3 linked regions of the Homo sapiens genome follow. The protein of the gene in region 2 purifies or fractionates together with the protein of the main gene of each other region. This does not show direct contact. Each region holds a gene or a part of one and is shown on either strand. Other genes may lie near its edges.

Evidence for each region.
Region 1: the proteins of PRKAG2 (region 2) and PRKAA1 purify together in Homo sapiens (affinity purification with mass spectrometry; 10 studies listed by BioGRID and IntAct, with this or other methods). This does not show direct contact.
Region 3: the proteins of PRKAG2 (region 2) and PRKAA2 purify together in Homo sapiens (affinity purification with mass spectrometry; 7 studies listed by BioGRID and IntAct, with this or other methods). This does not show direct contact.

The regions. Positions count from the first base shown.
Region 1 is NC_000005.10:40,760,143-40,767,745, forward strand, and holds part of PRKAA1 (5'-AMP-activated protein kinase catalytic subunit alpha-1), read right to left. Parts: intron 7,549-7,603; coding exon 7,324-7,548; intron 5,097-7,323; coding exon 4,610-5,096; intron 4,499-4,609; coding exon 4,372-4,498; intron 4,326-4,371; exon of another isoform or gene 2,881-4,325; coding exon 2,636-2,880; 3' UTR 1-2,635. UniProt on the Homo sapiens protein: Catalytic subunit of AMP-activated protein kinase (AMPK), an energy sensor protein kinase that plays a key role in regulating cellular energy metabolism.
Region 2 is NC_000007.14:151,873,893-151,882,444, forward strand, and holds the start of PRKAG2 (5'-AMP-activated protein kinase subunit gamma-2), read right to left. Parts: upstream 3,224-8,552; 5' UTR 2,729-3,223; coding exon 2,615-2,728; intron 1-2,614. UniProt on the Homo sapiens protein: AMP/ATP-binding subunit of AMP-activated protein kinase (AMPK), an energy sensor protein kinase that plays a key role in regulating cellular energy metabolism.
Region 3 is NC_000001.11:56,640,563-56,648,413, reverse strand, and holds the start of PRKAA2 (5'-AMP-activated protein kinase catalytic subunit alpha-2), read right to left. Parts: upstream 3,101-7,851; 5' UTR 3,027-3,100; coding exon 2,933-3,026; intron 2,662-2,932; exon of another isoform or gene 2,419-2,661; intron 1-2,418. UniProt on the Homo sapiens protein: Catalytic subunit of AMP-activated protein kinase (AMPK), an energy sensor protein kinase that plays a key role in regulating cellular energy metabolism.

The sequences.
Region 1 (7,603 bases), on a different chromosome or scaffold from region 2:
TCAATATTAGTAACAATTTGCAAACAACAAAAAAATTGTGAAAATTCTGTTGCAACCTTGACACACTTAACCAAAGGTTGTCATTTCAAATATCCTAGCTTAAAAAAGAATTTACTGCAATTGTCTGTGCATTTATCATACTATTTATAGAAGTGCAATATTTAAATATTTTCAAAATAAAACACAGTAACTAAAATGAATCACAATAACTTATAAGAGAAGCAAAGTTTACAAAATTAACAATTTTTAAAAGGTCCTATTTAATTGGTTCCTCCTTTTCTTCCCCCCTCCCCACAACAGCGTATATAGCGCCATTACTTAATTCCATATACAAATTTGTAACTTTAAAAATACAGTCTTCTGTTAACATCAGGAACATTATGCTGCACTTAGAGACCCTAAGTAAAATTAGAATCCCCTAAAGAGAGGGCCACATAAAAAGTAAATACAGTTTTGAACTCATATTTAAATGGAACTTCTATTACTTTGTACAGCTTTCAAATTAGAAGTTGAATAGAACAAGCCCTGGACAAAAAGCAGCAAGATTTTTCTTTTGAATTCAGTGCATGATTCTAGAAGTGCTTGAGTCAAATCTACTAGAGTCACCATTTATGCAAGCTATCATGACATTTGAGTTCATTATCATCTGGTTACATAAGTGCTCACTGTATTTGCCAAAAATAATCCTAAAATATGATTCTTAAAATAGAAAAAATATAGCTCTGTTGCAATGGGAAAATGATTAATACAAAAAAATCAATTTCTTAAAGTTAACATAAGGCAAATATAAATGATACAATATTATCATACACGATACCAATTTTATCTGAGGTGACTACATCTTCATTTACATCTATTGTGTGATGCAATTAAGAATGACAAAAAAAAATATCAGTGTAAATCAGAAATCTTAGGAAAATCCAGTATCTTTAAAAAGTAATTTAAGCCCAAAACAAATGTGACCACTTATTAATAGAATTGATTTGTTCCATATTTTATCAAAATAATAATAATGTTATATCCAACTAAAGAGTTATAACCAAGTGTCATATGTAAACTTTAATTGGATCCTAGTTTGAAATAATCAGCTATAAAGAAATTTGGAGTTAACTTCAGAAATTTAAATATGGCTTGATTAGATGATATTGGGGAATTATTACTTTTACAATGGTATTACGGATTTTTAGGAGAATGTCATTATCTGTAGGAGATACTTGAAGTATTTTCACGGTGATAAGTATGTCTGTAACATCCAAATGGTTCAGGGGGAAAAAAGCATATATACATACACAAACAAACACATATATGCATATATATGCATAACTAGCTGTATCTATACATATATAGGTATAGAGAAAACAAATGACAAAACATTAACAACTGCTGAATCTAAATGGTAGATATACATGTGCTTACCAAACAGTTTTTCAATTTTTCTGTTTTTAAAAATGTTCATAATAAAATTTGGGGGGGAAGTCATATCAGAGCACTTAAAGTTTGTAAGAGATAGTTTTCTATGCACTGAATCAATTTAAAAGATACATAATCAAATAAGTAGCAATGTGTGCATATACTCAATAATGACTGACATGATGGGCCAGAGGAATTTGTGAAATTGGCAAAAATAATATGATTTATCTACAGTATATGCAACTCAGCTCTTGTAACAAAAAGAACATTTTGTGTACAGAATATCGTGGGAATATTTTAAGACTAAAATTAGTGCTAGAGTATCTGAATATATAAATTCTGTGTTTTTGGACTTGTAAAGCTAAAATGAAATTTAAATTAGGTCTGATATCTGATATGACTTACCATACACTACAGAATTTTAAAAGGGGGATATGGAGGCCGGGTGCGGTGGCTCACGCCTGTAATCCCACCACTTTGGGAAGCTGAGGTGGTGGATCACGCGGTCAGGAGTTCGAGACCAGCCTGGGCAACATAGTGAAACCCCGTCTACACTAAAAATACGAAAAATTAGCCGGGTGTGGTGGCACACGCCTGTAGTTCCAGCTACTCAGGAAGCTGAGGCGGGAGAATCACTTGAACCCGGGAGGTGGAGGTTGCAGTGAGCCGAGACCACACCATTGCACTCCAGCCTGGGTGACAAAGTGACACTGTCTCAAAAAAACAAAGAGGGAGGGATATGGAAGAAGTTATCCAGACTGTTACTACTGCTGGAAGATACTAGCTATTTATGAAGTTAAGGAGCCCAGAAAACAAAATCACCTATAAAGGTCTTGGGAATTCTAGGCAAATATTTATTGAATAAATTTATAACACGTAATATATAACACGTAATAATATATGAAGGCCTTTATGTAAATTAATATTTCAAAGCCCTGTGTACACTAAATATAAAATAGCCAAAAATCAAGTAAGCCTGAGACCTATAATTCACTGTGTATATTATGCTATATACATACTGCACAATGAACAACAAAATGATCTTAATTCATTTCTGCATATTAGGCTTTTAACTATAAATCATGTTCCAATCCCTGTGCAAATTGCATTCCAAAACGCCAGCCCTCGGTTATAATTATGTATAACTTGATTACAAATGGAAGCATTTGGCTGTGACTTATTATGCATGCTTATTGCTGCAAAAGAAATAAGCAAAGTTTTCTGTTTATTGTGCAAGAATTTTAATTAGATTTGCACACATCTCAAAAAATTCTATTGTGTGACTTCCAGGTCTTGGAGTTAGGTCAACAGGAGAAGAGTCAAGTGAGGTCACAGATGAGGTAAGAGAAACTTCTGAGGATTTTCCTTGAGCCTCAGCATCTGAATCACTCCTTTGGCAAGATCGATAGTTGCTAACTGATCCCGATCTCTGTGGAGTAGCAGTCCCTGATTTGGCTTCTGTAATTTCATCTGGGTAAAAAGAATTTCAATTTATTATAGTCTATGACCTTCTCCCAAAAATTTTTGTAACAGTATTGAATTTGCTTCTTTAAGTGGGGCTGCTGGCCAGCTATCAAGAGCACGCTTATTCTAAATACCTTCTAAAACAGTCAATGAGCCTGTATTAAACTATTCATCTTTTTTACATATAGTATGTATTCTCAAGATAGCTAACCAAAGTTGGGTACAGTATAGCTACTCATCAGTTGCAATCCAAGGTTAAGAGCCCAGTAAACCAACAATCTAGGGATTAATAAATATTATTCTATAGCAATAAAAAGTAATCCCTCTATATTAAAATCATAGAATCGATGCACTTAAAATTTGGAGGGTATACTGGAAACCATCTCATCCAGCCCCTCACTTTATTGATAAGAAAACAAACCCAGAGAAATGACTTGCCCAAGGTAACAAATGAACAGAAAGGTAAGTCTAGAACCCAACTCTCCTAAGTCTCAGCTCAGTGCTTTTTACTTTCCACTTTCCCTTCATATTTCATTTAGTATTTCATAAAAGAGCAACAATTCCAATGAATAAAAATCGAAGAAAAACTAAGGTTGGGAACACAGTACAAAAACAAAATGGGCATTCAATTGGTATACCCCAGTACTAGTAAATCTAAGGTTGCAAATTTGATCCAAATACAAGAAAAATAAAACTCATTCCGTATTTCAGACTGCATTAGTATATGTTAGCAGATACGTACTATATGGACCTAAAGATAACCAGACAAACTGGTTTGGCCAACATATCATGGCTCAAACCTGTGTCTTTCTGCTACTATGTGTGTACTATCTTTGAGTTTATAAAGAAGAAAAAAATTCAAACGTGAACCTCATCTAATAATTCTATGCAACCTTCCATAAGCAAAGGTGATACTATATATATATATTTTAATATTTTGTAAAGACAGAGTCTCAGTATGTTGCTAAGGCTGGTCTCAAATTCCTGGGCTCAAGCCATCCTCCCACCTCAGCCTCCCAAAGTGCTGGGCTGTTTACAGGCATAAGCCACCACACCTGCACTCAACAGCGTAGCTTAATGCAATTGAATTGGCCAATGAAGAATTGCCATAACTTCATTCTTAACTGAAAACTTATTTAATAATAAATAAAAGCTTACAGAAGAGTCAATATTTATTTCTAAATAAAACATTGTCTCTTATCAAAATGAACTACACCAAAAAAACAAATGCAGCAGAAAACTATCACCTTAGGATCAGACTACACCTGGCTTTAAGGATTTTACAAGATGATAATCTTAAAAGGACAATATGCTATAAGATTACAAGAAAAATAAGATTCATAAATGTTAATATTGCAAAGGCACAAGAAATCACATTTTTTATTCCTTTGCAGTTGAATTACTAGGAACAAGTCAAGAAGCCTCAAAAGAATCAAGGCGTAAAATACCAAGTTAGTAACAAGGTCTAATCTATGTTGTTTTGTGTGATGTACATACCATCAATACTACGGAAATCCAGTAGATAAGTTCTACTATCCACTTGGTATAACTGTAGACTCATTTTGGAGTAAGTGCTTGTCACAGGATTCTTCCTTCGTACACGCAAATAATATGGGTTTACAACCTAGCACATGGTATAACAAAAACCAAGTCAAAAGTAATTCTTCTATAAAACATTTTATAGACTATGGGTTTGCCAAATATGCTAATAATCAAAATGTTATTTCTTTCTTACCTTCCATTCATAATCCAATTGTTTGATTGCTCTACATACTTCTGCCATAATATCATTTGGTCGACTTTGACTTCTAATTCCTAAATGCCATTTTGCTTTCCTTACACCTTGGTGTTTGGATTTCTGTGGATTTAATTCATCAAGGGTATGGCGTGCCCTTGGTGTTTCAGCAACCAAGAATGGTACTCTTTCAGGATGGGGCCGAGTCAGGTGATGATCATCAAGAAAAGAATCAGGTGGGCTTGTCGCCAAATAGAAATCTTTGGCTTCATTCATTATTCTCCTGTTATCTATTATGAGATGGTAGGCAACTGCCAAAGGATCCTGGTGATTTCTGTTGTAAAGACAGCTGAGAACTTCCTCTTCTGAGCACTCAAACTTTTCACATACTTCTTTTAAGGCTTCATCATCAATCATGGTTGAACTATATGATGGATCCTCAGGAAAGAGATATTTTGGAAGGTCCTGTTTAAACCATTCATGTTCCCTGAGAGAAAAATGGCAGGATCAGGAGAAGGACTTTGAATAGAGCTGAGACTGAAAGTAACAGTTTAGGGAATTTAGAATATGACTTAATTTATATTTATATTCATACTGTATTATTGTCACTTTTTGCACTGAAATTTTCCTCTTCTAGCTCGCACTTCATTGTGTATGTTGAGGGAAATGCTCCAATTTCCCTCCAGTTTTAAGAGGGAGAATGTATTGACACAGCAATGGGGGGAAAAAAGTTATGGGACAAATGACAGCGACAAACAATGAAAAGAACAGCTTATTTCCAGCTTAGAAAGAGAACATATTAGGTAGCTTCATTATAATACTCTTTTGATATAATGTTAAGTGAAGATAATGTAACAACAAGAAAAATAGTAGACAACTACTGAGTACTTACTATATGCTAAGTTTTATGCTAAACACTTCATATACACTATCTCCCCTCATCATCGAAACAATTATATGAAGATAATATCTCTTTGTTTTAAATGAAGGAATTGAGGTTAAAAAAAAAATCAAGGAACATGCTCAAGGTCACAAAGACAGTAAGTGACAGAACCAGGATTATGACCCAGTTCTGTGTGACTGGAAAGGCCATGCCCTGAATGATTTCCTATTCTAATTCCCTAACTTCGTATATTTAAGAATATGTTTGACCTGAACTATGTCACTTTGCTAAAACTAAATAAAATCCAGAGACGAAAAAAAAAACAAGAAAAGAACAATGGTTATCTTCTGGGTCATGGGATTAAAGATAATTTTTTATTCTCTTCTCTATTGTTGGTGTTTTTCTAAGTTTTTTCAATTGTCATGTATTATATTTTAATTGGAAGAAAATAGGTAAAATACAAACAAAAACATTTCTTACCTAGATATCTTAAAATATAAATTTTAGAGAATGATTTGTCCTTTCCCTTTGGTGATAAAATCATGCCGTGCCATTCATGGTCTCTTTTTTAGCTAGTCTAAAACGTGTAGTAAGTGGAAAGTAATCAAGCTTCAAGTTCCACATATAATCTTTCCTTCTTCTTCATTATACTAATGCTTTCATATTTACTATTCCTAGATCCATATCTGATTTCTTTCTTCCTTCTCAGATAAATGTGCAGTCTAGCCATTAGAAGACCAAAAGGACCAAAATTTCCACAGGGGGGAAAAAAAAGAAACAAGGCTTGCAATAAAATTGTTTAAGTCTTCATCAGAAATGGCTCACTCTAATTTGAGAAGAAAATTTGTCATCGTCATTTTTGTCTAATTTAAACTATTAGGTTGAACCAGATGAAACTGGTTATACTGACTTTTACCTACAAAACAGGAATTTTGCATGTAATTCAATGTATACTACCAGGAAAAACATGTCAATTAAATCTCATTCCTTGGGATTAAAAAAAGAAAAAAAATACAATAATTCATGAGATAAGAAATAAAATAGCCACCCACAAATTTACTACTGAAAAGTATTAATCCTAACGCCAGGCATACTGGCTCACACCTGTAATCCCAACACTGGGAGGGAAAGGCACAAGGATCACTTGAGGCCAGGAGTTCAAGACCAGCCTGGGCAAAAATAGCAAGACCTGTCACTACAAACAAAAACAAAAAGCAAAACAATAACAACAAAAAACAGCCAGGCATGATGGTGGATGCCTGTAGTCTCAACTACTAGGGAGGCTAAAGTGGGAGGATCACTTGACCCAGGAGTTACTGGCTACAGTGAGCTATGATCACACCACTGCACTCCAGGCTGGGTGACAGAGCAAAACCTTGTCTCAAAAAAAATAAATAAATAAAAATAAAAGATATACATATATATGGGGCCTCGCTATGTTACCCAGGCTGGTCTCAAACTCCTGAGCTCACATGATCCTCTTTCCTCAGCTTCCCAAAGTGCTGGAATTACAGGTGTGAGCCACAGCACCAATCTTTCATTAGCTTTTTTGTTAATTTAAAAAGTAATATGATGTTCACTGTAAAAATTTCAAAACAAAGATGTGTAAGTAAAAAGTGAAAGCCCTCCCTCTTACGAATCTTACTTCCCTAAGGTAACCAGTTTACTATGTATTTCTAATAACAAAATAAAATAAATGTGTCTATACACTCTATTTTTTTCACATAAAAACAGGATTACACTGTATATTCTGTTCTGCAACTTTTTTTTTTTCACATAACTTTTATCATGGATACTATCAGATCTGATAACTTCCAAACTGCTTTATTACCTGATATCTTTGATTGTGGCCCTCTTCATGGGATCCACCTGCAGCATATGTTTCAAAAGGCTAATCACAGAAGGATTTAAATATTGAGGGGTATAGAAGATCCCATCACATATCTTCTTAAAAAGAGTTGGCACATGGTCATCATCAAATGGAAGGGTTCCACATAATAAAGCATAGAGAATAACCCCACTGCTCCATATATCTACCTCTGGGCCTGCATACAATCTGTAACAGGAAATAACAATTGGATTAAAGAATCATTTTAACCTAAGATTCAGTT
Region 2 (8,552 bases):
ACCACTGGACAATGGCATGTTCTTGTTTCTCTCTATATATTTTTTTAAAAAACTAGGTGTCTGATGTATATGTATATGTATATGATGTATATGTATATGTATATGATGTATATGTATAAGTATATGTATATGATGTATATGTATATGATGTATATGTATGTATATGTATATGTATATGATGTATATGTATATGTATATGATGTATATGTATATGATGTATATGTATATGTATATGATGTATATGTATATATGTATATGTATATGATGTATATGTATATGATGTATATGTATATGTATATGTATATGATGTATATGTATATGTATATGATGTATATGTATATGATGTATATGTATATGTATATGATGTATATGTATATGTATATGATATATATGTATATGTATATGATGTATATGTATATGTATATGATGTATATGTATATGATGTATATGTATATGTATATGATGTATATGTATATGTATATGATGTATATGTATATGATGTATATGTATATGTATATGATGTATATGTATATGTATATGATGTATATGTATATGTATATGATGTATATGTATATGTATATGATGTATATGTATATGATGTATATGTATATGATGTATATGTATATGTATATGATGTATATGTATATGTATATGTATATGTATAAGCCATACATTTATAGGACACTTTACACTTGTCAAGAGTTTTCCCGGGATGGGTGTGATGGCTCACGCCTGTAATCCCAGCACTTTGAGAGGTCAAGGTGGGCGGGTCACTCGAGCCCAGCTCATGTGGACCAGCTTTGGGCAACATGGTAAAACCTCATGTCTACAAAAAAAATAAATAAATTAGATGGGTGTGGTGGCACATGCCTGTAGTCCCAGTTACTCAGGAGGCTGAGGTGGGAGGATCACTTGAGCCTGGGGAGGTTGAGGCTGCAGTGAGCCATGATTGCACCACTGCATTCCCACCTGGGGAGCAGAGTGACACCCTGACTCAAAACAAAAAAAACAATAAAAAAGAGTTTTCCCATGAATTACTTTATTTCAATATCCGTATAAAGCAGGAAAAATGGGTATTATTTCCTGCATTTGACAAATGGGAGAAACAGTAGTTACACGGTTAGCTCAAGTGATCACTGTTTAAGAGGTTTGTGGCAGCAACATCTAACTTTTAACTCACGAACATGGTTTTAAATGTCTTACATGAGAGATGTAAACAAGAATGTTTCATTTTCAAATAGAACACTTATTCCTGCATAATCGAGTCACCACCGTGGGGGCCACACAGCAGCCAGGGGTCCAAGTTTCCAGCCCCAGAGCTTTCCAGCCAGGGAGGGCTGGCCCAGGGCCCCTGTGGGGCTACTTGGCATCAGGTGTCTGGAGACCCGCCCCTGGACTCCACCCTCTTCACCCAAGCGTTAGGCACGTGTGGGCCGGAGTTTACACAGGAGGACCTTAGCGGGGCGTCTAAAAGAAGGGTGGCTCAGCAAACACGGGGCAGTGCGCCCTGGGATTCACAGTGGGAAGTGAGTGGCCTGCCTCGGCCATGCCAGCTGCGCCTGACCCTGTCGGGAAGGATTAGCTTTAATGAGGGGTCCGGACAGCCCATTCACTGCGCACTCCCACCCTGCCCCGGGAGAGCAAAATAACTTTCTCTACGGAGCACTCTGGTGTGTGTGTGTGTGTGTGTGTGTGTGTGTGTGTGTGTGTGTGTGTGTGTGTACACAAACATTTACTTGGTTGGCTGAGGCGGAGGGTGTGACCCAGTGGGCCACACCTCCCACCGCCCTACCCCGCTACGTGGAGGCGAGGAACAGTGGCCGCGGGCTACCGGGGCGCCTTCCGAAAAGAGAACCACTACGCGGCCCGCCGCCCCTCTGGCTGGACAAAGTGAAGCCGCAGGCAGATCCGAGTCGCCAATGTCCTCCCGGGCGGCTGGCGCGGACGGGGCTGAAGTTCAATGCAGCCTGCACGGATTAGGGAGCTCCGAGCCCCCAAATACCACAGAGACCCAAAGTACACTCCCGGGGCGGGGGAAGGGAACGGCGGCAGAGGAGACCCCCGCTCCAGGCCCAGAAACGCCCGGAGAGAAACTGGAGCGGAGGGGGTGCATTGGAAGACGCAGCTACACAGCTCCCCCCAACCCCCGCCCCGCTGCTTTCCCCACCCACCGCCCCTCCCCTCTCCTCCCTCCCCTCCCCTCTCTCCGTCTCCAGCAGCCGAGCGCGGGCTCCACCTCCCCGGAGCGCAGTCCACACCGTCCCTTTTCAGCAAAACAACACAACGCACCGCCCCCCGCACCCGCACCCGGCTGGATACCGGGCTACGCCCAGCCGCCCACCCGCCGCGCCCGGCGCCCCCTCTAGTCTGCAGCCGCCCAGCCCCCGCCCCAGGCGGAGCCCCAGCCCTGGCTGCACGCGGGCAGAGAGAGAGATTGAGCCCCGGCTCCGCCAGCCCAGCTCGGGCCCTGTCCCTCTACCCTTTCCCCAAGCCGCCCGAAGTGACAGGAGGGGCACGCACGGCGCGCGCGGGGCGTCCAGCGTTAACCGCTTCGGCGCCGGGGACGGGAGCGACAGGAGGGCTGGGGAGCAGGGGACCGAGTGCTGGGACTCACCGGAATGTGCACGCGCAGCGAACGCCTCTTCTGGCTGGCATTTTTCTTGCCGCCGCTCCCGCCGGGGCTGGAAACATCTTTTTTCTTCTTGGTGTCCATAACCGCGCTTCCCATAACTCTAACCAGAAGTTGATTCTGCGAAACTCCTCGGGGGTTCGGTCCCCTCCTTCCCTCCCCCGGCCGCTGCCTTCGGACTGGAGCCGCGCGCTCTGTTACACCCTGAAGCCACCTCGTGGGGACTTCCGCGGAGAGGGAGGGTGAGCAGGGAACTCGCGCGGCCGCCGCCGCCGCCGAAGCGCCGAATTCAAGCGTCCTTTCCTACGGAACCCTCGTAGGCAAATCAGTCAAAGCCCGTCCCGGTTCTGGTGTCTCCCCGGGTTACTCGTGGCTGAGGTCTCCCGCTGGGTGACAAAGTTTTCTTCCTTTTGCAAAGCTAAGAAACATTTTCCACCCTCTCGGCTCCTCCCACAGATTCCCAGAGGTAATCTGAAAGGCAGGTGCAATTAAAACCAGCAATTTGGAAAACAAGCCTCCTATGCCTGTGCCCAAGTGGGGAATCTGGAACCAGTAAGCCCGTTCGTGCATAAATGTAATCCTCGGCCGCAGAATAAACCAGCTCGGAGCCTGCAGCTGGGTCCGTCCTCCTTTCTGGGCGAGAGGGAGGGCGGCGGGGGAAGAGGAGGTGCAAGGCGAGCCCTCTGCGCAATTAGGCTACGGGCGGCCGCTGGCAGAAGTTCTGGCGGCGGCGCTCGCGGCCCTGCGCGCCGGAGGGGGCGCCCGGAGTCCAGCGGGCCAAGAAGGGCAGGGCGCCCGCTCCTCGCCCCCCGCCGCGCCGCGGCCCCAGGGGACCGCAAGGGGACAGTGAGGGGCCGGGCCTGGCACCGACGCAAGCTCGGGGAGCGCGGGTGGTGGGAGGCGGCGCGTGTTGAACAGGAAGTGCGCGGCGTGCAGCGCCACCGTCCCGCTCCCCGTCGCCCCACGCCGCCCTCGTCGCCGCGCCCAGACCCCTGCGGCGGCCGCAGCCGCTTGGGACTCGCTGCGAGCTGGTTTCGGATCCATCCCGCCTCCCGGCGTCTCACTGTGTGCCCTACCCTTTGAAACACGCCCCCGCGCCCGCCCTGCCGTAGACCAGGCAGCGAGGAAGCCCACAGTCTCCGGGGGCGCTGCGCGCGAAGTAGCACGTGCTTCTCGAAACACCGCAGCCCCCGGGTCCCGCCCCGCCCGGCGCGCGCACTCGAACCCGCCCAGAGAGCGGTGCGTGGCGCTGGGTGCGAGCAGGGTCTAGCCACCCCCACCCTCACCCCACCCCACCCCACCCTGCTTTTTTCAGGTTCATCAAGGTTTGCGCAGTGGATCCGCGGTAAGTGCGTGTCCCCACGCCGCGGGAAACGTGGGGCTCCTGAGACTGCGGAAAGAATTGGGAGAAGGGGAGGGCTCGAAGACCCGGGCGAGGGTTCCCGGTGCGGCCCAGGTCCTTTAGAGCCCCGGGTGGGCATCCAGTACCGCCTGCTGCCGAGGGCCCTAGAGGGGTTGGGGGAGGGGGCTGGTGTGTCCCCCACCCCCAGATGCGCCCCAGGATGGCGCGACCTCGGCTCCCTGGTGGAAAGTAGGGGGAGTGCTGGCTTGGGGGTCGCTTCCCCTCCTGCTCTAGTTTCTGAGGATGTGATGACCCCAAAGGTCATTGGCGCTCCCAGAATGCTGACGTCAGCTCAGCCGCTCCGAGTAATCAGTAATGCAGGGAGGCCACCCGCAGAAAGAACGCGACAGGGGTCGCTTTGGGGACACCATAGGGCCTTTACTCCTTTTGAGGTGCGTGCTTTCGCAGGACTCCCTCCCCAGAGGAGGAGGCATGATCAGCCCACCCAAAGGATCATCTCTTAGGAAGCAGGCGTGCGCCCACGCAGGGAGAAGCATCCTTCCTTTCAGCTGCTTGCCGGGTGGCTTTTCCAACCCGAGTTCCAGCAGCTTGCACAAAATCCTTACAGCTTGGGTGGTTCCCTGGCTCATAGGGGTGGGTTTATATTCTTTCTCCTTCTCCTCTGCTCTCTGGTCCAGAATGAAGCCAGCCTGGAAGATCCCCAGTCTCGAGACAGAGCCTGACAGGGGCAGATGCACTGGAAGGACCCTGTCTGGGTTTAGCAACCAAGCAGCCATCCTGGCCCCACAGGTGTGGGACTTCTGGGTCTTCTCCTGGCTGGCTTCTTGCTAGAGGATTTCAAGAGACCCAGCAAGACTGTATTGTCCCACTGAATGCTCAAGATATTGGTTAGAAGTAGAAAAGGGGAGGGGGTAGTATTTAGCCTCTGTCCCCACTAAAAATTATTCCCAATTGTCATTTGTGTCATCTGTTTAGCTTACAGTTTTAATCCTTGTCAAAATGATCATTTGCCAGGGTGCATAAAACACCCTATTTGATGAGAACTGGTTTTAAAGGAAAATGGGGCCATCAGAAGGAAGCCGGTTGGTGTGAAGAGACGTCTGGGAAGAGCCCCTGGCGAGGGCCCTCATTCCACTGGGTGACCCAGAAGGAGAAAACCGCGATGGCGCTTCTCATTTGAAATGTTTTCTTTATGGACAGTGTTTAGCAATTGTTATAATGTGTACTTTTGTTGATTGATCTGTATACATATGTAAAATAATTTGTTCTCTGAGTTAATTTTGTTGGAACAAAGACTTTAGTGCTTCCTACATTAAAACATTTTACTGTATTGCCTGCATTTTAAGAGCCTTTTTTTAATTTTTAATTTTTTTGGTCCTTGTGATATGACGAGGTATAAATTCTGGGTTTTGTCCAGGGTTCCTGGCTTAGCACTCTCGTCGCCCTCATCACAGTCTCTTGTTATAATGTTGGGGCGCTTTAGGCCTCAGACACCCCAGGAAACAATCTCCTCTGAACTTCCCCTGCCCTCCTTCACCACCTCACCAGCCCAAGGCAGGACTCTAATCCTCCCTCATCTTTCTGATTGTGGGACTTAAGACCCTCTATTCAGAAGGGGTCCTGCCCCATTCCCGAGAGGAAGAAATCCTGCACGGAAAGGCCAATAACGGTCGGAATAGGCAGGACTTGTTTGGGTGTCCACACTTACTCAGTCACTATTGGATCATACCTTTTTGTTCGATCACATTTCTGCATGGTCGTCAATCGTGTCTGTCCAATGAAGTCTCCTTAAGAAGCCCAAGAGGTCTGGGTTTGGGGGCTTCTGGATCCCTGGACATGTGGAGGCTGCTGGAAGACGGGGTGCCTGGGAAGGGCATGGAAACTCCGTGCCTGTTCTCCCTGTACATCCCATCATCTGTGTTCTTGGTAATATGCGTTATAATAAACCAGTAAATGTACATTTCCCTGAGTTCTGTGTTCCACTCTAGCAAATTAATGAACCTGAGAGGGGGTTGTGGGAACCCCAATTGAGAGCCCAGCCTGTCGGTCAGAAGCTCCGGATGCCTGGACTTGCAACTGCTGTGCGAAGTGGGATGGGGGTGGGGTGCCTTGGGGATTGAGCCCTCAACCTGTGGGATCTGCCACTATCTCCAGGTAGACAGTGTCAGAAATGAGTTGGAAGACACCCTGGTGTCTCCTGCGGAACTGATTGCTTGCTTGGCAGTGGGGAGAACCCCCAACACACACATATGGTGACACGAACCTTCCGCGTTGATGATTGTCGTAGCGTGAGAGCAGAGGAAAAAACAATTTGGGATTTTTCCCTTCAGGGTTCTATATATGAATATTTCTGAATTATGGGGGTTGCTTATAGATGATGTCAGAAGAAGTTTACCTGCCATTTTTTTCCTTCTAGAGATACATTAACAAATTGATCACATATCTTCTGACTGGTGGAGTCTCAGAGTGGAAGGAACACAGTAATTGTTTTGATTTGAGGTGTTTTCTGAAAACCCCCGTCTTCCCCTCCCGTTGGTGTGCACACAGTTATTTTAGCCAGGAGCTAAATGTCGCGGGCCCACGCGACGTTGTTCATATAATGACCCCTGACATTCACTCTTTCTCTATGCCCTACCTATGACCTCCTTCTCAACATTAATGCAGTAAAATCTGTGCTGAACAAAAGGCCAAAACTTTAAGTAAGGCTCTGACAATGTCACTGATTCTGCCTTTTGCCTCCGGTGCCAATATTGCTCGGCTCAGCACTGTTACTGATCCTGTCTTTGTGTAAAATTCTAATGTTTAGAAATATATTGCATTACATATTCTTTATCTTGGTGACTGAGTTTTTGGCACCCCCTTAAATTTTGCACCTGAGGCCAATGCCTCATTCACCTCCCCCTCGTCTTCCGAGAAGGATGAGAAGGAGAACTTGGCCAGGCCTGGAGCTGGGGCTGGGGCTGGGGCTGGGGCTGGAGCCGGGGCAGGGGCTGGGGCTGGATCTGGGGCTGGGGTCAGGGCTAGGGCTTAGGCCAAAGCACCCAGCTTGCTTCAGCCAGAGGAGCTGCCTCTGACCAGCTATGCAATGGGGGCAGGTCCCTTAGTTCCCCATCTGTAAGAGAAGTGGGATGGTCTTCAGAATATTTCTGTGGCCTCTTTAAGGGAGCTTGTATTTTTGTCCTGATTGTATTTGGTATGTCTTTGTTAATTGTATTGCTCTAGTAATTTATTTTTTATTGAATTTTACAAAGTATCATTCCACAGTAAGTTGGAAATTAAAAACAAACAGAAACAACTAAAAAACCACCCAAGGCCCTTCCTACAGATGGTTTGGGATAGCTTGTTGGAGAAAGGGGCATATTGAGTGTATCAGTCTGTTCCCATGCTGCTAGTAAAGACATACCTTAGACTGGGTAATTTATAAAGGAAAGAGGTTTAATTGACTCACAGTTCCACATGGCTGGGGAGGCCTCACAATCATGGTGAAAAGCAAGGAGAAGGAAAGACACGTCTTACATGACAGCAGGAAAGAGAGAGTGTGCAGGGGAACTCCCATTTATAAAACCATCAGATCTCGTGAGACTTATTCACTATCACGAGAACAGCATGGGAAAGACCCACCCCCATGATTCCTCCCACAACACATGGGAATTATGGGAGCTACAATTCAAGATGAGATTTGGGTGGGGACACAGCCAAACCCTATCACTGAGGCTGCTTCCCGTTGGGGGCATCATTGGCCCAGGCTGGTGAGCATGAGGGTTAAAAACATGCAGCTTCTATTATGTGACAGTGCCAAGGGCTCATACACATGTTAGCACATTGAATGGGGGAGCAGATATGATTGGCACATTTTATACCACACATGTGTTTGTGTCGTTGCTGTCCCACTATATTAGTATCCTAGACCAACATCACCTGCAAATACTTGGGGTACCCATTTCTGAATGCTGTCAGCTCTCAGGGATCCTGGTCAACACACTGGCCTGCCAGGGTGAGCCACCTCTTCCCCAGCCAGGCAACATTTCATTCAGAGGTGATAATTTAAAATGCTGCACCCAGGTCCAGGGCCTACAACCCGCTGAGAAGTGAAATACCCACAGTAGGAGAGTTAACGTAAAGGAAATCCTTGATCAGAGCTTATGAAGGGGACACTGGCTATTTAATTTCACTTAATCTGGTTTTCCAAACTTACGTGTTCCCTTACGCCCACCCATGCTTTTTTTTTTTTTTAATTTGGCCTGTTATTCCATATAAATAAAAATGACTTTGAAAACCATGAGTCATCTTTATATAGTATAGACAGTCTTAGAATTGGGGGTGTCCTCATGGGTTTGAAGTCCAAGCTTACTCTGGGTGCTTAGAATGTAGCAGTTAGAAGCTTCCTCTGTAATCAGGAGATGGATGTCTGTGTCTGATGAGTTCCCAACCTCAGTGACAGTGGATTCCACATTGCAAAGAAGAAAGGAACTTTTTGATCACTAATAACATGCCAGGCACCATGTTAGGTACTTCATATTAACTATCTCACCCTAATTTCCACTAAAATCCCTGAAGAGA
Region 3 (7,851 bases), on a different chromosome or scaffold from region 2:
TATTCAACTATAAAAAGGAACAAATTAATGGCACATGCTATGTCATGCATGAATCTCAAAAGCATTGTTAAAGAAGCTCGACACAAAAGATGACATATTGAACGATCACGTTTATGAAGAAGAGCCTAGAAAAAGCAAATTTATACAGGCAGAAAACAGATTAGTGATTTCCTGGGACTGAGGGTAGAAATGAGATTAACTGTGAATGGGTATAAAGAATCTTACTGTGGTGTCCTCAAATGTCCTAAAACCTATCTATAATGATGGTTGCAACATTTGGCAAAATTAGTAAAAATCACTGAATTGTACACTTAGAATGGATGAATTTCATATATAAAATATACCTAAATAAGTTGTTTTCTTTTCTTTTCTTTTTTTTTTTTTGAGATGGAGTCTTGCTCTGCCGCCCAAGCTGGAGTGCAGTGATGCAATCTTGGCTCACTGCAACCTCTGCCTCTCGGGTCCAAGTGATTCTCCTGCCTCAGACTCCTCAGTAGCTGGGATTACAGGCGCCTACCACCACGCCTGGCTAATTTTTGTATTTTTAGTAGACATGGGGTTTCGCCATGTTGGCCAGGCTGGTCTCAAACTCCTGACCTCAATTGAACCGCCCGCCTCAGCCTCCCAAAGTGCTGGGATTACAGGTGTGAGCCACAGTGCCCAACCATAAAGCTGTTTTCTAACAAAAAAAAAAAACATGACTTTTTGTTTCGCTTGTCCCTTGAAGAATTATATGAGTAACAATTGTACTAATCCTAATCTTGGATAGGAAACCATGGTATCACTTTTGAGAGGATCTAACACAGTGTTAGGAAAACTCCTTCAACTGGTTGTTCATTGGACAGAGGTTCTCCAGGAAAAGAATTTCTCATAAATCAAAGTTCTTTCTGTTTATATTTTAAGAAGCCAGTGCCTGGAAACAATTCAAAAGTACATACAAGAGATTTAAGTTGTCTTTGGCAATGGACTGATTGATCTGATGAGTATTCTACTCTACATTCAGATTACAGTATATGAACTTAAAAAGACAAGCAAAAACTTTTAACACAATATGAAAGGACATAGGGTTAAGTTATATAACTTTGTGTGTACATGTCCAAATGTCAAAGGCGCTGTTTGCTTGAGCAACTGTATAATGTTGTAACACAATAGTCCTTAATAATAATACTAAATGACAAGTAACATTACAGGCATTAATCCAATCCCTGGATTGTCCTGTATTCATCTTAAATACATTCTAACTATCCACTCTACTTATAAGGTCTTTCAAAAATAACCCAGGACTTTATAACCCTCACAGGACAGCAAAGAATTTTACAAACTTTTTAGGTCTTTGCAAAAATACCACCTTGTCTGACCACCTTATTGAAAACTGCCAACCTCACAAGACTCTCTATCTTCCCTTCCCTGATTCGTTTTTCTCAATAAAATTAAACATACCTTTTACATATATATTCTGATTACTGTCTGCCTTCTCCTACTAGAAAGCTAAACAAAAAGATCTGTTTTTTCCTTGCTGTATCCTCATTGCCTAGAACAGTGCCTACCACGTTGCAGGTGCTCAGCGTTTTTTGAACACATGAATGAGTATTAAATATGTGCAAGAAAACAGGAGCTGATTCTTACCAAAGGAATGAAAAATGAGTCTCTTCTACTCATTCAACAGCCTTGACTTGGGGTTAAAATATGAATTTTACAAGGAAATAGAGACCTCAGAATAAAATTTCCAGACTGCCTACCCAGCATTTCTTCAGCAAAGAGAAAAAATAAAGGTCAATATTTCACTTATAATTCTGGATTTGCAACAAAGTATTTTTAATAAACAACTGTCTCTATTCTGGAGAGAAGGCAGGTTAATTAAATCACATGTGACTAATTAACAAAAAAGAAAACAAATGAAAGTTCCATACTTAACTATTCTTACTAGTTACTTAACTCGAATAAAGTATAACATTTCAAAAGCAGCCTGTTTTTCTACATTCAAAAGGGGATCCTATCTCCATGAAGACAGACCTTAGCAGAATATGCCTTAGCAGTCCTGACCTCCTCAGCCTCAAATCCTCCAAACACCAAGGAAACTTTTTCTCTCCCTTACCCTAGAAGTCTTCCCATAGCCATTTTACAAACACAAACACCTTCAGACCTCTCTGTTTTAATTAACCTCTGACCCAATCCAGCTGCATTCCAGCGTTAAACAACACCCCAGGAAGAAAGACTCACAACCTCTGGCCCCTGGAGCATCCCCCAAACAGTCACCCCCAACAACCGAGAGTCCTGGAACGTGAAGGAATCTGGGGATGGCAGGGACCTCCCAGCAAGACCAGAATTGGAGGACATCTTAGACTTCACTCTGGTACTGACCATTTCTGTGTGACCTTGGGCTTGTTACTACATCTCTAGGGGTCCTAGTTTTCTCACCTTTAGGGTGAGGACAACATGTTGACCAAGTCACTGTGAGGATTCAATGAGATTCCATGTAAAGCACCTAACAGGGCACCCGGCACGAAACGGCGCCTCAGTCCTCAGTAGCGTGGATGATCCCCGCCCTAAGCCTACAGGCTCAGAGCTGGAAGGCGCCTCGCAGAACGAGTCCAGTTCTCCCGATTTTGCAGAGGAGGACACTGAGGTCCAGAGAACACAGAAGTGCCTTGCTCCGACCTCCAGAAAGGCAGATGGGCGCGGAACCTGGAACCCAGGACGCCCATCCTCAGCTCACACCCCCGCCCTCTTCCCTGGACCCTGTGGGGCCCGGGCGCCGGTGCCAGGCGAGGCGGTGCGCGCCACCCTCCCGGGGCCCCAGCTCCGCGCGACCCGGGACCGCTCCACCTGCCGCCGAGCCCCGCGCCCGCCGGAGGCCCGGGGCTCCCGCCTCTCCCCTCGGCCTCCCGCAAGTCAGGCAGCCCCGCACAGCGGTCCGGAGCGCGTACTCAACTCTTCACTTTGCCGAAGGTGCCGACGCCCAGCGTGTCGCCCAGCACGTAGTGTCCGATCTTCACCCGCCCGTCGTGCTTCTGCTTCTCAGCCATCTTCGGCGCGCGCGGCCTCGCTCCACCGCCTGCCGCTCCGCGTAGCCGCCGCCGCCGCCGCCTACCCACAGTGCAGCGGGCCCTGCGGGCGAGGGGGCGGACCCCGAGCCGCGAGGGGCGCGGGGCGGGCGCGGGGTCCCGGGAGAGGGCGCTGGGCGCTTCGGGCCCAGGTGGGAAGCAACGGGCGAGCGGCGGGCGGGGCGGGGCCGAGGGAGGGAGCGCGAGGCGCCCGCTCCCGGGAGTGAGAGGCTCCTGCGGCGGAACCCGAAGCAGCGACAGCGGGGGCCGGGGACGCGGGGCGCTGGGCGGGAGTGCGGGAGGGGCTGCGCCAGATGCGCGGGGTCCGAGTGAGGGGCGGAGGCGACAGGTGCTGCGAGGGGGGTAGGCGAGGGTGCCGAGGGAGGCAGGAGGCCCTTTCTGAGGAAAACCGAAGGGGGTGAAAATAGGGGGTGAGACTGGGGCCCGATCCTAGGGAATGGAAAGACTTGGAAGTCAAACTGGAAGAAGAGACGGGCCTCGCATGTCGGGAGCGAGGGGCTGTAAAAGGGAAGAATCGGGAGGGGAGACTGCGGGAAGGGCCCTGGCCAAAGGGGCAGTGGCAGGAGAGCCTCTAGGAAGCTCCTCAAGTCTCGTCTGAGGCTTTTGGATACAGGTCGCGGCACAGGGAGAATGCACGCAGCTCTGTGCTCTCTTGAATTGTCCTCCTCTACTTATTCTGTAATTCCCAATTATTTTGTCCTATAGATGGAAGAGACCCTCTCCGCCAGAGCTCTCAATTTTAACTAATTTGCCCACAGTTTTCCAAAAAATCTCAGTCACGGTATTTGCTCGAGTGTTTTTTAGCACATGCTTATATAAATATGTAGTTTTACCACGCGCTTATATAAACATATAGTACCGAAATGTGATACAGCTGTACAAGAAGGAAATGGGAAAGACGTGGAAAGGGAAACAATGTTCTGCCCACAGAAAGTAAAATACGTAAGCGACAGAGGAATTGTGAAGGGCGAGGCCAGTATAAGGTCACATATTAAAGGAAGAATAAATGTGATATAGAAGTGAAAAGAGTGGTAAGAGGAAATTAGAAGCATGATGCCTAGGCAGCGTGTTCAAAGACTGACCTCCCCACCCTCCCCCACAAAAAAAAAGAAAAAAGACTGGCAAAGAATTAGGTAATAAAGCGATTATCTCTGCCTCTCTTCCTTCTCTCCCGCCCTTCCTTCCCTCCTTCCTTCCTTCCTTTAATGTTGTCTCATTCTTTAATGTTGTTCTGTCTTTCAGTGATTAAAGTTTATTTGCTTCTCACCACACACACAAAAAGATTCGTATACAATATGTTTGTTAATTAGCTTGACTTATAGCCATTCCACAATCAATATATTTCAAAACATATACATACTAAATATATACAATTTTTATTTGCCAATGAAATAAAAAATTTTAAAACAGTAAAAAAAAATTCTGTTTGGGGATAAGTAATTAAGGATTAGTCAAACATTTATAGCACTGCATGCCAGTAGAGTTTCAAGGTCACATTCCTCAAACATGAAGTCTCTTGAACACTGTTTATATGTAAATTGAAATGTATTGATCAAAAAGAATAGGACACAACAAAACTTTGTTTTCTGATAAGTACTAAATATAGAAATTTCAAACATTCATTCTCATCCAAACATCAAGACAATCTGATGAGAGATGATCACAGCTTATAAATTATAGATATCACAGCTGTTAAACAGAGGCTATTTTTGTTCATTCTTCAGATCATCTTTCTTGCTGACAAGTATCATCTAGGAATCACTCTACCTCGCTGGCAATTTTGAGAAAATAGCCAGTTATTTTTGTGCTGAACTTTCATCTGGTTAAGGGTCATTCCTTCAGTAGTCAAGTGAGTAAGAAAAGACCTATTCTGCTTTTGAGGTATGAGATGTATATGTCTTCTGCTCTAATATCCCGTTAAAAGATGTTGAAAAGTCTTCACTTGAAGTTAGATGATTGCTTTCTTGAAGCTACATAAAGACTAACTGTAAATTGAGATTTCAAAGCATTTCGTACTGTCTTAACTATTTGTTGATAAATACTGTAAGTTAAATTATTATATACTTCATAACTATGATTCTTACATAGCTACTGTGGACTACCTTATAGTTTTGTTACTATGTGAAACATCTATGATACTTTGTTGATTAAGAAGTTCATTTAAACACAATTATTTAATTGTCATAAAAGAAAGATTATTATTCCCATTTTATAGATGATAAAACTTAGTTTTTCCCTTTCTGATTTGCCCAGGGCTAAAAAGTGGCAGAGTCAGAACTCATATCCAGTTCTGACTTGTCCTTCAGTCTGCCTACTATACCGCAGCTGCCTATGCCAAAAGAAAGTATGGTGCTCTAAGAAAGTTAAAAATTGTCACAGTTGTGGTTCCATTTTCATATTTTTATTATTTCTTGGGCAGTCCAATAATATATCCTATAAATTTGTAAGTATTTAAACTACTTTTTGTTGTTTTTCTGACTTTTATTTAGAGGAAAGGTTGAATGGTAAGTGGGTAAGAAGGACAACTCTTGGTGGCAGTACTCAGCCCTCTGTTGTCCTGGACACTTCAAGATAAGGTTCCATATTTGCCTCTTCCTATTCAGCAGTAGAAAACTCGACAGTTAATCAGAGTAGATCTCCTTAAGGGTCATGCCTCTTGGAGGTCTCACCCCTAAAGATGACCTGGTAAATGCAATGTTCCCATTTTATTATCTTCCAATGAAGGTTTCACGCCGCTATTGTTTAGTACCAATCTCTAAGACCAGTGCCCCAGGGAGGTGTTCAGTTCTTAGCGCTGGTCCAACTATTGCTGCTTTACCCTCCTGCTTCTGAAACTTTGGGGTTGTTTTACCTTCAAATATTCTAAAATAAGTCCTGAGTAGGACATTAATGCAAGACCACTAAACTAATATACTGTACTAGACACCATTGGTATTATCAGTAACCAATTATTTCAAGTCTTTGCTCACAGTCACCTTCTTGGTGAACCCTACCCTGGCCACCCTATTTAAGTTGCAGTTTCTTTTTTTTTTTTTTTTTTGTAATTTTTTTTAAATTTTTTTTTTTTTTTTTTTTTTTTTTTAGAAGCAGGGTCTCGCCATGTTACCCAGGCTGGTCTCAAACTCCTGGACTCAAGTGATTGTCCTGCCTCAGCCTCTCAAAGTACTGAGATTATGGGCGTGAGCCACCGCACCAGGCCTAAATTGCAGTTTTATCTCACTCATGCTCTCTGCCCTGCACTCTCATCCCCTGACCCTCCTCAACTTTTTTACATAGCACTAGCCATGTAACATACTATTTAATTTATGTGCTTATTATATTTTTGTCTGTTTCTCCCAATTAGAATCTAAACTTCACAAAAGAAGAGAGGCCTTTTTTCTCTATTTTGTTCACTGATGTATCCTTAGCTCCCGGGACAATGCCTGACAAAATATAGATATCCAAGCAGATTCAGAATGTGGCACCTGAAGTTTATTCAGTGTGGGGGAATCTCTTTAAGGGAAAAAAAAAATGCAAAATTGGGTATGAAAGTGAGAATTTGAAGTGAAAAACAACTCTCTACAAATTTATAAAAGCTGACAAATGCCACAAACATCCCCAAATCCAGACAAATAACAATATTTTTATAAATTAATTATCTAACATACCTCTATAATACCTGTTTTCTACATTTTCTGGCTGTATACTCTTTGATTACCTCTTTATATTTTGTAAATTTTTAAATAGAATAGAAAGATAATTCTGACATTAAGCATGATTCATTAAGTTTTTCATCACATGTTTCTTTTTAGGTTTTCCATTGTACATGTTTAATATAGCTAATATAGAATTTATCAATTCTATTATCATATACATTATACATACATATAGATAGATACATATATGTATTTATATTTACATATTATATATGCAAATGATATGTTCATACCCCACTTGCTGTTTCTGGGGCCTAGTGGAACCTGGTATATCATTCCAAAAATATTTGCTAAATTGAATTTTAGAAAGGGTTAGTTACTAAGCTAGAGAATCAAGTAACAACAATACAGGGAAGAGTGCAGTTTTATTTTATGTATACACATATTAAAGGCAAAGCATAATTTTACATCTCAGCACAGCAGTCATTAGTGAGGTTAGAGAGGCATGAGTTAGCACCTTTGAAGTCTATAGATTCATGATATAGGGCTTCTATGGCTGTCTCCAATTTAAAATAAAAAATTTGGACACTCAATGAATAATAAAGGATGTTTATGGTATTTTATAGGAAGTACAAGCTCAATAATTACATTTTTAAAATTTTGTGTGAAAAACTTCAAACATACACAAAAGTAGAGTAACATAAATAACCTTAGCATCTGTGATGATCAACAATTGTCATCATTTACCCATCTATCTCTGCACTTTTAAAATTTATTTTCAGGAGTATGTTAAAGTAAATAAGCAGATTATTTCACTGGCAAATACTTCAGTATATAGGTCTAACAGATAAGCACTTCTTTTTAACACAACCATACTACTACTAACATATCTAACAAAATTAGCACTAATTCCTTACTGTTATGAAATACCCACTCTGTGGTGAATATCCCTTGATTGTCTCAGGAATGTAGTTTTACAGTTGGTTTATGCTCATCAGGATCAAAAAAGTCACACTTACCATTTTGTCAATACATCTCTTTTAATATGTAGTGTTTTCCCTTCCCACTCTTTTTTAAAAATGTCATCTATTAGTTGAAACATTGAATTATTTTAACTGTTGAATATCCCGATCTTGTTGGATTTATCTCAA